Homo sapiens: one gene and its partners. The protein of the gene in region 1 interacts with the protein of each later gene in a pairwise test. Each region holds a gene or a part of one and is shown in the gene's direction. Other genes may lie near its edges.

Region 1 (3,500 bases):
GGAAGGGAACGAGGGATAGAGTCAAGGAAGTGGGTGGCTCACGTTGCATGATAGAAAAAGAGACTTAGCAGCCGGGCACGTTGGCTCACGCCTGTAATCCCAGCGCTCTGGGAGGCTGAGGTGGGCAGATCACCTGAAGTCAAAAGCTTGAGACCAGCCTGGCCAACATGGTGAAACCCCACCTCTACTAAAGATACAAAAATTAGCCTGTCGTGATAGTGGGCACCTGTAATCCCAGCTACTCGGGAGGCTGAGGAAGGAGAATTGCTTGAACCTGGGAGGCAGAGGTTGCAGTGAGCCGAGATCGCGCCACTGAACTCCAGCCTGGGTGACAGAGCGAGACTGTCTCAAAAAAAAAAAAAAAAAGAGACTTAGCATTTTGTAAGGGCTGCTTCTGATGTCTTAGCAGGGGATGCTGACTCCAGGGCAGAGCAGCCAGCATGCTGGGGACTCTGTGGGGCTGGGGGCAGGGGAACAGCCTTGCGGGGGGCCTCTCATTCTGCTCCCCTGGGTCACCTGATGGGCAGCAGCCCATCCTGTCTCCTGGGCAACCAGGTGGAGAAGCCAAGAGCTGGCCCTTCACTGAGAGCTCCTGCCCCAGGGATCTGCAGCTGCATCACCAGATGGCCACATGGCCCTGGGTTGAGTGACTCCCCGTCTCTGAGCCTCAAATGTCTCATCTCTGAAAGTGCCAAGCCCTACTTGCAGGGTGGCTATGAAGCGTCCCGGGGACATTAGAGATCAGAGGACCCACTTAACAAGCGCTGCGGCCATCCCTGCAGAGAGAGACTTCACTCCCATTCTGCAGATGGGAAATGAGGCTCAGAGAAGAGAAGAAGAGAGTGTGTGGCAAGGAGAGCACTTCCCTCAGATCTGAGAGCAGAGGCTCCCCCACCCTCCAGCTCACTCACCATGGGGATGGGCAGGGCCACAATGAGCCCCCAGGGGTTAGGGTCAGCGGAGATGACCCTGGCTCAGTCTGTCTGTCTGGTCCCCACAGAGCTGAAACCACCAATGGGTGAGGTCGTCACCCCTACGGCCCCCCAGGAGCCTCCTGAGTCTGTGAGGCCATCCGCTCCCCCTGCAGAGCTGGAGGTGCAGGCCTCAGAGTGTGTCGTGTGCCTGGAACGGGAGGTAAGTCCGGGGCCCTCCCCACCCGCCTGCCCTGCCTGTGGCCACCCTCCTCAAATTCTGCAGGTACAGGGTTGTCTCTGAACGTGTTTTCTCCAGTTCTCTAAGTAGACTGTGCTCATCTAGAAAGAAGGCAGGAAATAAAGATGACCCCTGGTCCCATGACCCAAATATGAGCTGCGCTCACATCATTTTCCGGACCTTTTTCTTTTTGTTCCTACTTAATAAATACATTAGGAAAAAATTTCCCAAATCATGAAATATCAACAACATGATTTACCCTGCAGAGGCTTTAGAAAATCATCTTTTGGCCAGGCATGGTGGCTCACGCCTGTAATCCCAGCACTTTTGGAGGCCAAGGCAGGTGGATCACCTGAGGTCAGGAGTTTGAGGCCAGCCTGGCCAACATGGTAAAACTCCATCTCTACTAAAAATACAAAAATCAGCCAGGCGTGGTGGTGGGCGCCTGTAAGCCCAGATACTTGGGAGGCTGAGGCAGGAGAATCGCTTGAACCCGGGAGGCAGAGATTGCAGTGAGCCAAGATCCCACCACTGCACTCCAGCCTGGCAGACAGATCGAGATTCCATCTCAAAAAAAAGAAAAAATCATCTTTTAAAAATTCATTAACACTTACTCTAAAAATTACACAGAGCAGTGAATGAAATACAAATCCTCCTTTGCCTCCACTGAGGGATCCTACTTAGAAAAGCAGCCATGTTTGCAGTTTGATGATTCCAGGGTCTCCCGTTGACCTGACTCATGCCATGATATGGATGGACCTATTGGTTCCAAATATAATCCCTGTTCTGGGGCCCTTGGCATTCCAGACAGCTTTGAGCGGAGCTTGGATCAGTTCCTGAAAGCAGGAGATGCTGAGGCAAAGTGTGGTCCTGAGTCAGTGGCTGCTGCTCCGGGTTGGGATTGTTTGTAGACTGAGGAGTTCAGGGCCTGGGCAAGTGCATCAACAAGAAAGAAGCCTGAACACCCTGCGTGCCCTCCGGCAGGGGCCGGCGGAATAGGCCTCCGTCGCCTGTCCAGAGCGCAGGAATATAATCCCCAGTTTTATTTAAGAAAGAATCAGTTGGGGCATTTATATGGGTATTTATATTTTTTACAAACTATAGAGAAATAGACAGCAAACTGCTAACAGAAGGCCTAGGTTACCTGTTTCGGCCGTGCCTGTTCTGTTTCTGTGGTGGTCAAATGCCCGAAGGCCCCACTATCAGGCGTTTATGGTAAAGATGCTAAAGAATAATGAAGGGGGCCGGCATGGTGGCTCACGCCTGTAATCCCAGCACTTTGGGAGGCCGAGGCGGGCAGATCACTTGGGGTCAGGAGTTCGAGACTAGCCTGACCAACATGGTGAAACCCCATCTCTACTAAAAATACAAAAAATTTAGCCAGGTATGGTGGTGCACGCCTGTAGTCCCAGCTACTTGGGAGGCTGAGGCAGGAGAATCACTTAAACCCGGGAGGCTGAGGTTGCAGTGAGCTGAGATCCCACCACTGCACTCCAGCCTGGGCAACAGAGTGAGACTCTGTCTCAAAAAAAAAAAAAAAAAAAAAAAAGACGGGCCTGGGACTCCTGGAACCCGGTAGGGCCAGCCACATGCTCCCGCTCTCCCTCCCCAGGCCCAGATGATCTTCCTCAACTGTGGCCACGTCTGCTGCTGCCAGCAGTGCTGCCAGCCACTGCGCACCTGCCCGCTGTGCCGCCAGGACATCGCCCAGCGCCTCCGCATCTACCACAGCAGCTGAGTGCTGCCCGCCCACCTGGGCCTGGTCCTAGCCCTGCCTCGGCCACTGTGAGCCCCGGGCTCCTGCTCAGCCTTGTGCCAGCCAGACTCGTATGAGGCTCCCCCCTGCCCTGGGCCCCTTCCCCACTGCCCAGGAGCCCCCATCCTAAGCTCCAAGCATGTCTGGGCCAGGCAGAGGTGCTCCTCATCCATGACACCACCAGTCTGAATGGTCCTGGGGGCTGGGGCTGGAGAGGCCGCTGCACCACCACCCGAGCCTGGGAGCCAGCGTCCCAGCCTAATCACGGATCTGCTGCCTCCCAGCTGTCTTGACTGAAGGCCACCGCCCCTGCAGGAGCTTGGGTCCTCATCTGGGGGCCATGCACAGGCCCGTCCCACCCTGCATGTGGGAAGGGAGCAGGAGGGCCTGGCTGGGTGAGGGGAGGCCTTCCTGGGAAGGCGTGTGGTGCAGGCCTGTGCTCACAGTGGCACCAGCAACCCTGGGTCTCCCTCTCTGCTGCTCCCCAGAACCCCGGGGCCCTCCTGCTCTCCACAACTGTCCCTCCTTACCCCATGTAGCTCGATCCGAAGCAGGAGTGTCAATAAACCTGTCTTCAGTGCGCTTCTGGCCT
Region 2 (3,723 bases), on another chromosome or scaffold:
CTATCAGATCTTTATGTCATAGCTTGATTGTCATATGATGATATAAAGATCAAACAGCAATTAATTTCCTCAACAGTCAATAGCACTTAACAATTCATAACTCAGAATTCTGTTCATAGTTTATGGTAAAGGATAATAAATTTAAATAGGTTTCCTAAGAACTTGGGTCTCAATTATAATTAGTTAAGTTGGGGTTCTTTTCCTGCTAGGTAATACGTGACAAGCATATATATTTTTATTTATTATTTACACTAATGTTTTGAATGGAGGCAGAACATTTGCTTAACTAAACCCAAGAGTTGCCTTTATAAAATAAATATAAAGAAAGCCTTAGCTTTAGGAATTTTCTAATAATTCTCTCTGGAATTAGTAATGCAGAGGAAAGACACGAGGACAAGTGTATTTGCTGTGTCTTAGTTTGGTTCCTGTGATCAAGCCTGCATTCTCTGCTAGTGATTATTTGCTTTCTGTCCCAATGCCCAAGTGATATGCCTGTTTCTCTGGGGGAAGAGCCAAGAGGTTCTTTTGAATGAAAGATCCAAATAAACACAAGAACAATCTATGGAATGTTCTTTTCTTCTAACCAGGAAAGCACTACGGGGTATACAGTTGTGAAGGCTGCAAAGGGTTCTTCAAGAGGACGATAAGGAAGGACCTCATCTACACGTGTCGGGATAATAAAGACTGCCTCATTGACAAGCGTCAGCGCAACCGCTGCCAGTACTGTCGCTATCAGAAGTGCCTTGTCATGGGCATGAAGAGGGAAGGTGAGACACATTCAGTTCCAAAACTCGTGTCCGGAGAGAGGCATTTCCTAGGCAAGGGGACATTCAACTGCAATACACGAGAAGTCATGGTGCCCAAAGTCATCCTAATCTCCACTTCAAATTTCTTTCCCACAGGGCTCTAAAGAGAAGTCTGAATAGGAAATTAGGATGACTTTGGGTACTCGTGTATTGCAATTGAATGTACCCTTTTCCTAGGAAGTGTGTCTCTCCAGAGCAGAGAGGGCAAGAGGCATCTTCCTCCTCCACATTTACCCATCCTCTTCTGGAGCCCAGATGGTGATCCCCAAACTGGACCGTCTCCTTTTTTCTTCCAATAACCAGGCAGCAAGTCTCAGAGCCAAGGTTTCAGGGTCCTTATGATCTGCTCTACCAATGGATCGTCAGACTGACCTTCAGGGTGGAGGTGACTTTTCTCCTCTAATCCTAGGTCTCTCTCTGGGGCAAACTGTAGGTTTCATTTCACTCACTGAGTTTTTTTTACCTGGGTCTGCTATCAAATCTTTGATATTGGTATATTCCATCATCTTTTGGCATTACTGGCATTACACAGGTTTGACAGACCTAACCTTCCCATTCAGAGAGACCACCACTGTGTGTTGAAACCATCACATCTTTTAATTTATAGTGTGGTTTAGCTGGGTATTCTAGTATGAGAGAAAAAAACCTCAGAAGGTGCTTTCTGTCCCGTTAGTAGACAGAAAAGACTTTCCATTAAGTATCACAGATAAATTGAAGTGGGCAGTTAATTAACTAGTGAGCTCAAGCAGGGACATGGGGATAGTGGTGAATCTTAATAGATTTTAGAGTAAGAAGGTCCTGCCTCTCTTTAGGAAATAAGAACAAGGAGTTCAGTCAGGCCCAGCACGCTCCTCATTCTTGAGGAACTTCTTTTCTGTGAGAAGAGGGCATCTTACTGAAAGGGTCAATGAAGAGGGGCTCTTTGTGTCCCTGCTAAAAGTGAATGTCACCCATGAGCAAACAAATTCTTGTAATCTTAACATGTCAAGATGCTAGAGGTGGCCTTACAGAGTCACCTAATCAACTGTAACCATCCGCCAGATGAGAAAACAGGCTCACAGAGATGAACGGAGTTTCCTGAGGTGCCAAAGGCAGTTAATGAACTGACCCCAGGTCTCTGACTTTCAGATCAGCCCTAGTCTGTGTCTCCTTCCCTGCCAGGTTGTGAAGGAACTGAAGATGGCCCTCGCTGTGACATTTAACAGCAACCTCAAAAGTGAGAGACCCAAATCTCAGCTCCTGAAAATCTGCCCCACACCCCAGCCTGTTCCTCACACAGTCTTCCCCTTTCAGGAAATGGCCACTTATTTTCCAGTTGCTCAGAACAAAAACCATTGACTCCCCTCTTTTTTCACACACCACATGTAGCGGGTGAGGAAGTCTTGTCTCTTCCTCAAACTATGCCCAGAATCTTTCCATGTCTCACTACTTTTACCACTAACCCCCCAATCTAAGCTAACTGTATATTTTGTAGTGATCTACACAGCATCCTAAGACATCTCCCTGCTTCCATCTTTGTCCTCCTACAGTCTCTTCTTAGCACAGTAGCCAGAGGGAGGCTTTGAACAAGTAGATTGGGTCAAGGTGTTCCTTCAGCAGAATCCTCCAATGTCTTTCCTTCTCACCCAGAAAAAAAGGCAAAAATCTTTGTCATGACTTAAGGTTGTACATAGTCTGGATGCCCTGTTGTCTCTCAGCCTCAGCCTTCCTGGCCTCTTTGGTGATCCTCAACTATACCAGAGATGCACCCACCTCAGGGCCTTTGCACTTGCTGTCTGTCTAGAATGATTTTTTTTTCAGGTATCTGATGGCTCACTTTTTCTCATCCTTCGTATCTTTACCCAATTCTCACTTTCTTGGTAAAGCCTTGCCTGGTTATATCATCTAAAATTGCACCAGCCACCCCCAACCCTTCCTTGTCTCTTTTACACAGTAGTTATCATGATCTAACACTTGTACTTATCTTGTTTACTGTCTGTATCCATGAAGGCGGGGGCTTCATCTGCTTTTTTCCCCCACTGCTTTATCACCAGTGACTAATACATTGTAGCCATTTAATAAATTGTTGAATGAATAGTTTAAACTGAATGCTGAAATCAGAAGTTTTAGAAGTGCAGGAGCTCCTAAAAATGACTCATTCATTTATTCATTGAGTATTAGCTGAGTGCCTACTCTGTGCTTACGTCATACTTGCTGTGGCAGTGGGATCAATGATGTTACAGATTGGAGCATGCGATATGAAATACCTGCTGGTGAAGAACATCTTTTTTCCACCAGGATAGAATTGGATACTCCTTGGAGCTTCCCCCACCATGATTATCAAAATGAAACTAATGACTACAAGTATTTCTCCCATTAACAAGAGTCCAGTGACTGCAGGGTCATTTTTTTCCCTCCTAAAACACTTGAGATAAGTTTCCAATTGACTTGGAACAGTAACAGTTTTCATTAAGCACATGATATTGAATTAAAGGAAAGTGAATGGTCTCAGTCAGAGAAACCATCATTTCTATTTCTCTAGAGTTATTCTAATCCATCTCTGAAAATGCAGGCTGAATATCCCCAGCTCAGTTAGGGACAGAGTGGTCAATAGGCCAAATGTTGGGAACTGTGGTTCGTTAAATGTTTTTAAAAAAGGAAGGAAAACAGGGACATGTGAACTGTAAGAGACACTTCTATGGTTTGGGTACTTTAATAGAAAGTTGGACCCAATTTTTGCTCCTGCATTTTTTAAAAGAATGTGGAGAAACAGAAAGAATAGTGAAAAGCTGAGTAGTAAAAATTAGGAGAGGGAAAGGAGCTCTTAGGGAACTTTCTGAAGAGATTGGCACCATTTACCCTGACAAAGGGAAGGCAAAGAAGTGAATCAATTCCTCCGCTGACTATATAAGGGGGCGCATTTCAAAAGGCTACTGGA
Region 3 (3,723 bases), on another chromosome or scaffold:
TGAAATGGAGTCTCACTCTGTTGCCAGGCTGGCATGCAGTGGCACCATCTTGGGTCACTGCAACCTCTACCTCCCAGGTTCAAGCAATTCTCCTGCCTCAGCCTCCCGAGTAGCTGAGACTAAGGCACACGCCGCCACGCCCGGCTAATTTTTTTTATTTTTATTTTACTAGAGACGGGTTTCACCATGTTGCCCAGGCTGGGCTTGACCTCCTGACCTCAGGTGATCCGTCCACCTTGGCGCATGTCTGTAATCCCAGCTACTTGGGAGGCTGAGGCAGGAGAATCGCTTGAACCCAGGAGGCAGAGGTTGCAGTGAGCCAAGATCACGCCGCTGCACTCCAGCCTGGGCGAGAGAGTGAGACTCCGTCTAAAAAAAGAAAATTGATATCCTCACATTTGCCCATCATGTCCTTGAAATGAGAAGTCAGATTGTTCTCTCCATCTCAGCAACTTGACCTTGGTGGGATCAGAAGGCCAGTCCTCAGGGCGGACCCTCTTGGGCACAGTGGGCCCAGGCCCTCCTCTGTGGGAATCACGGGGTTTAGAACCTTTAGCTTTCTTCTGGAGGTTCACCTGCCCTCACAGGCGCTTCCTTCCAGGACAGATGTCCCACGGCTTGCAGATGGCTGGGCCCCAGGAGACGGTGCTAGCCCTTCCTCTGAGAGAAGGTAGGCGTCTCTCACCTGCACAGGTAAATCCCCACTGAGGTTTGGGGGCGAGAGGAAGTGGAGAGCCCATGGCTGAAGGATTTCCCTTGCATCCTTCCCACAGCAACCCCAAGTTGTTCTCTCACCCATTTGCTGCTCTCCTTACCCAGTGTGGCTTGACGTCTGGGACAGTGGCAGGTGGGCAGAGGGACCACAGTATTCTGTCCTGTCTGCAGGGGTGCAGGCTGCCGCCACCGTGCCCATCCTCCTGTACAACCTGGAGGATGGCTTGTCAGACCATCCCCTGGACCAGGGGCCCCGCTGCCCTGCCCGGCGGCCCTGCAGCCCTGCCTCGGCTCCAGCTCCCACATCGCCAAAGAAGCCCAAGATACAGGCACCTGGGGAAACGTTTCCCACTGACTGGAGCCCCCCGCCCGTGGAATTCCTCAACCCGAGGGTGCTGCAGGCCAGTCGGGAGGCCCCGGCCCAGAGGTGGGTGGGTGTGGTGGGCCCCCAGGGCCTGAGGAGACTGGCTGGTGAGCTGCCCGAGGAGTTGGAGCAGGAACACCTGGACTTGGACCCGAAGAGGGGCCTGGCCTTGCCAGAGAAGCTGTTCTGGAACACGTCAGGCCTGAGCCAGCAGGCTGCGGCCCCAGAGGTGAGCCTGTGTCCACCCTTGGCCTCTTCTCCTTGGCTACCCATCTTTAGCCACCCTTTTACAGTCACCCCAGGCCACCCTCTCCTGAGCCACGCCCCAGCTGCTCTTCCTCGGACACTTCACCTTGACCATCCCTGCTCAGCCCTTGGGCCCTCATGGCTGGAAGCGCAGGCCCCCAAGGCCAGGATGCACCTCGCCCTGTGTCTCCACCAGTAACTCCTGCTGACAAATGGCTTTGGGTGGCAACAAATTCGATGCCACTTCATGGGGCCCCTTGAGGCTTTCATGGCTGAGGTTAGGGTTATGGCCCCGGAGCAAGGAGGGATCTCAGAGCTGAGGTCTGGGCTTGGTTGTCTGTAGAGACTCAAGCTGACTCTGGTCCAGTGGATCGGGAGTCCTAAATGGAACTTCAATGATGAACTTCAAATTGGGAGTAAGCTCCTGCTGCTAGGTAGACTGTGGGACATTTACAGGCTGTGGATCGAGAACAGTTATTCTAAGAATGGGTTTCAGCTGTTTGTAACAGCCTGCGAGAGAGAGACAGACAGACAGACAGACAGAGACACAAGGGAGAGGGGGACAGAGGGAAGGAGAGAGAGAGGGAGGTGGGAGAGAGGGAAGGAGGGGGAGAAGGAGAGAGAGGGAGGGAGGGAGAGGAGAGGAGGAGAGGGCAATGGGGAGGGGCACAGTGGGAAAGGGAGCAGATAGGGAGGGGGAGAGAAGCTCTTTGGCTTTGATAGGGAATGATGTCAGATCATTGAGATTGAAAAGTGTGTGGTGCAGGATAGAGCCTGGTGCAGGATAAGCTGTGTGGTGTGGTGTGCTGGCGCCTGTGATGTGGTGTTGTTTGCTGTCTCTGTGTGAAGTGTCTCTGAAAGCACATGAGGAATGCCTATCCCATGGGCACCTGTGGGGAGGGAACAGGTGGCTGGGGGTGGGGATGGGGGCAGGGAGACATTTTACCCTGCGCCTTTATACTTTTTGATTTTTTAATCCTGTAAACATAGTATCTTTTCAGAAAAGCAAACAAAATAAATAAAGGGCTTAATTTAGTTTTTTTTCTTTTTTCTCCTCTATCTTTGTACTTCTCTGTCGTCCTCATTCCCATGTCCTGTTTCTCCAGTTTTCCTGGGGGGGCTCAGGAAGCTACTTCAACAACCTGGACTACTTACTGCAGGAGAAGAGGTGAGCACAGGGCGTGGCCTGTCATGGGGTGCTTATTTCTGCAGGGTTGGCAGCAGTCCCGGGACTCACTGCAGAGTCTGGTCGGAGTACAGCGGCCTCCCACCCAGACTCAGCCTGCCCTGTGTGCTCTGATCAGTAACAGGCAGGTCGCCAGGGCAGGGGGTGGCATCACCAAGGCAGAGAGCCCCCAGACTCCCACCACGAACAGAGCCCTCCTTCTGGGTCCCCTCTCCACCTTGGCTCCATTCTGCCCAACTCCTGCCAGTTTGAGGGTGTCTCCTCCCACTCAAGGGTTATGTGAGAGGGAAGTGGAAAAGCAGACTGTTTTGTGGCTGAGGGTTACAGCCTGGCTGTGGCTGGAGGGTCATGCTGGGCAGACGGGACTTCCTAACATTTCTGCCGCTGCTTTCTACCCCAGTGTGCAGGCACGCGTTGCCCATTTTCCCATCCTCTCTGAGTTTCACACCTGCCTTCTCCCAGCATATTAGCTTCTAACTAGCTCTCTCCCTGTCTGCCATAAGTAGTTTCCACGGACCGCTGAAGGCAACAGTCACGTCTGATGAGATTGGAAATCCCTAGGGAGGTGCAGGTGGCTGGGGACAGACAGGGGTCGTCTTCATGGGGGCATGCTCTTTGGTGGCATGTGAGCAGGTTGTTCACACTTCCTGAGTCTTTGTCCTCTCCCGTTGTTGTGTTGTGTTGTTTTTGTTCAGTGCATGTCCATTGTGTTTGCAGAAGTTAAGTGTGGGCGGGGGCGATGCCACCCTGGAACACCCAGCTCTCCTGGTGGGAGGACTGATACCCACTCTTTCCACCCTCCTCAAAGTTCCCAGCCCTGTTGGCAGAGAGCTCCTCATGCACTGGGATGAATTATTCTTTGGTCCATTCTTGGCCCTCTGGCCCGCCCTGGAGTCATCTCATCTGCCTCTGCTGTGCAGCCCCTCTGGGCTCCTCCGACCCGGGAACTTGTGTTGTTCAGCTCCTTCACCTGAGTGATTTTCTCCCATTAGATTGTACGTTAGGGAAGGGACCATGCCTATATATTTCCACGGTGCCCAGCATGGTGATGTACATTTAGTAGACGCTTGAAAATATTGGCAGGAAAATGAGCAGCTGGGGCCTCCTCGTGACTGCTTGTCGGTGTGCCTGGCATTGGGAGGGTCCTGCTCTGTGCTAGTCAGCTCGGGCTGCTGTAACAGGATGGCACACACTGGGGGCTTAAACAATACAG

What was found.
Region 2: the proteins of LRSAM1 (region 1) and RXRG interact in a two-hybrid assay, tested with the Homo sapiens proteins (one large-scale study listed by IntAct).
Region 3: the proteins of LRSAM1 (region 1) and FAM178B interact in a two-hybrid assay, tested with the Homo sapiens proteins (one large-scale study listed by BioGRID and IntAct).

What each region holds. Positions count from the first base shown.
Region 1 is NC_000009.12:127,500,010-127,503,509, forward strand, and holds the end of LRSAM1 (E3 ubiquitin-protein ligase LRSAM1), read left to right. Parts: intron 1-1,000; coding exon 1,001-1,134; intron 1,135-2,764; coding exon 2,765-2,890; 3' UTR 2,891-3,490; downstream 3,491-3,500.
Region 2 is NC_000001.11:165,414,085-165,417,807, reverse strand, and holds part of RXRG (retinoic acid receptor RXR-gamma), read left to right. Parts: intron 1-587; coding exon 588-767; intron 768-3,723. UniProt on the Homo sapiens protein: Receptor for retinoic acid. Retinoic acid receptors bind as heterodimers to their target response elements in response to their ligands, all-trans or 9-cis retinoic acid, and regulate gene expression in various biological processes.
Region 3 is NC_000002.12:96,969,485-96,973,207, reverse strand, and holds part of FAM178B (protein FAM178B), read left to right. Parts: intron 1-601; coding exon 602-670; intron 671-885; coding exon 886-1,307; intron 1,308-2,430; coding exon 2,431-2,492; intron 2,493-3,723.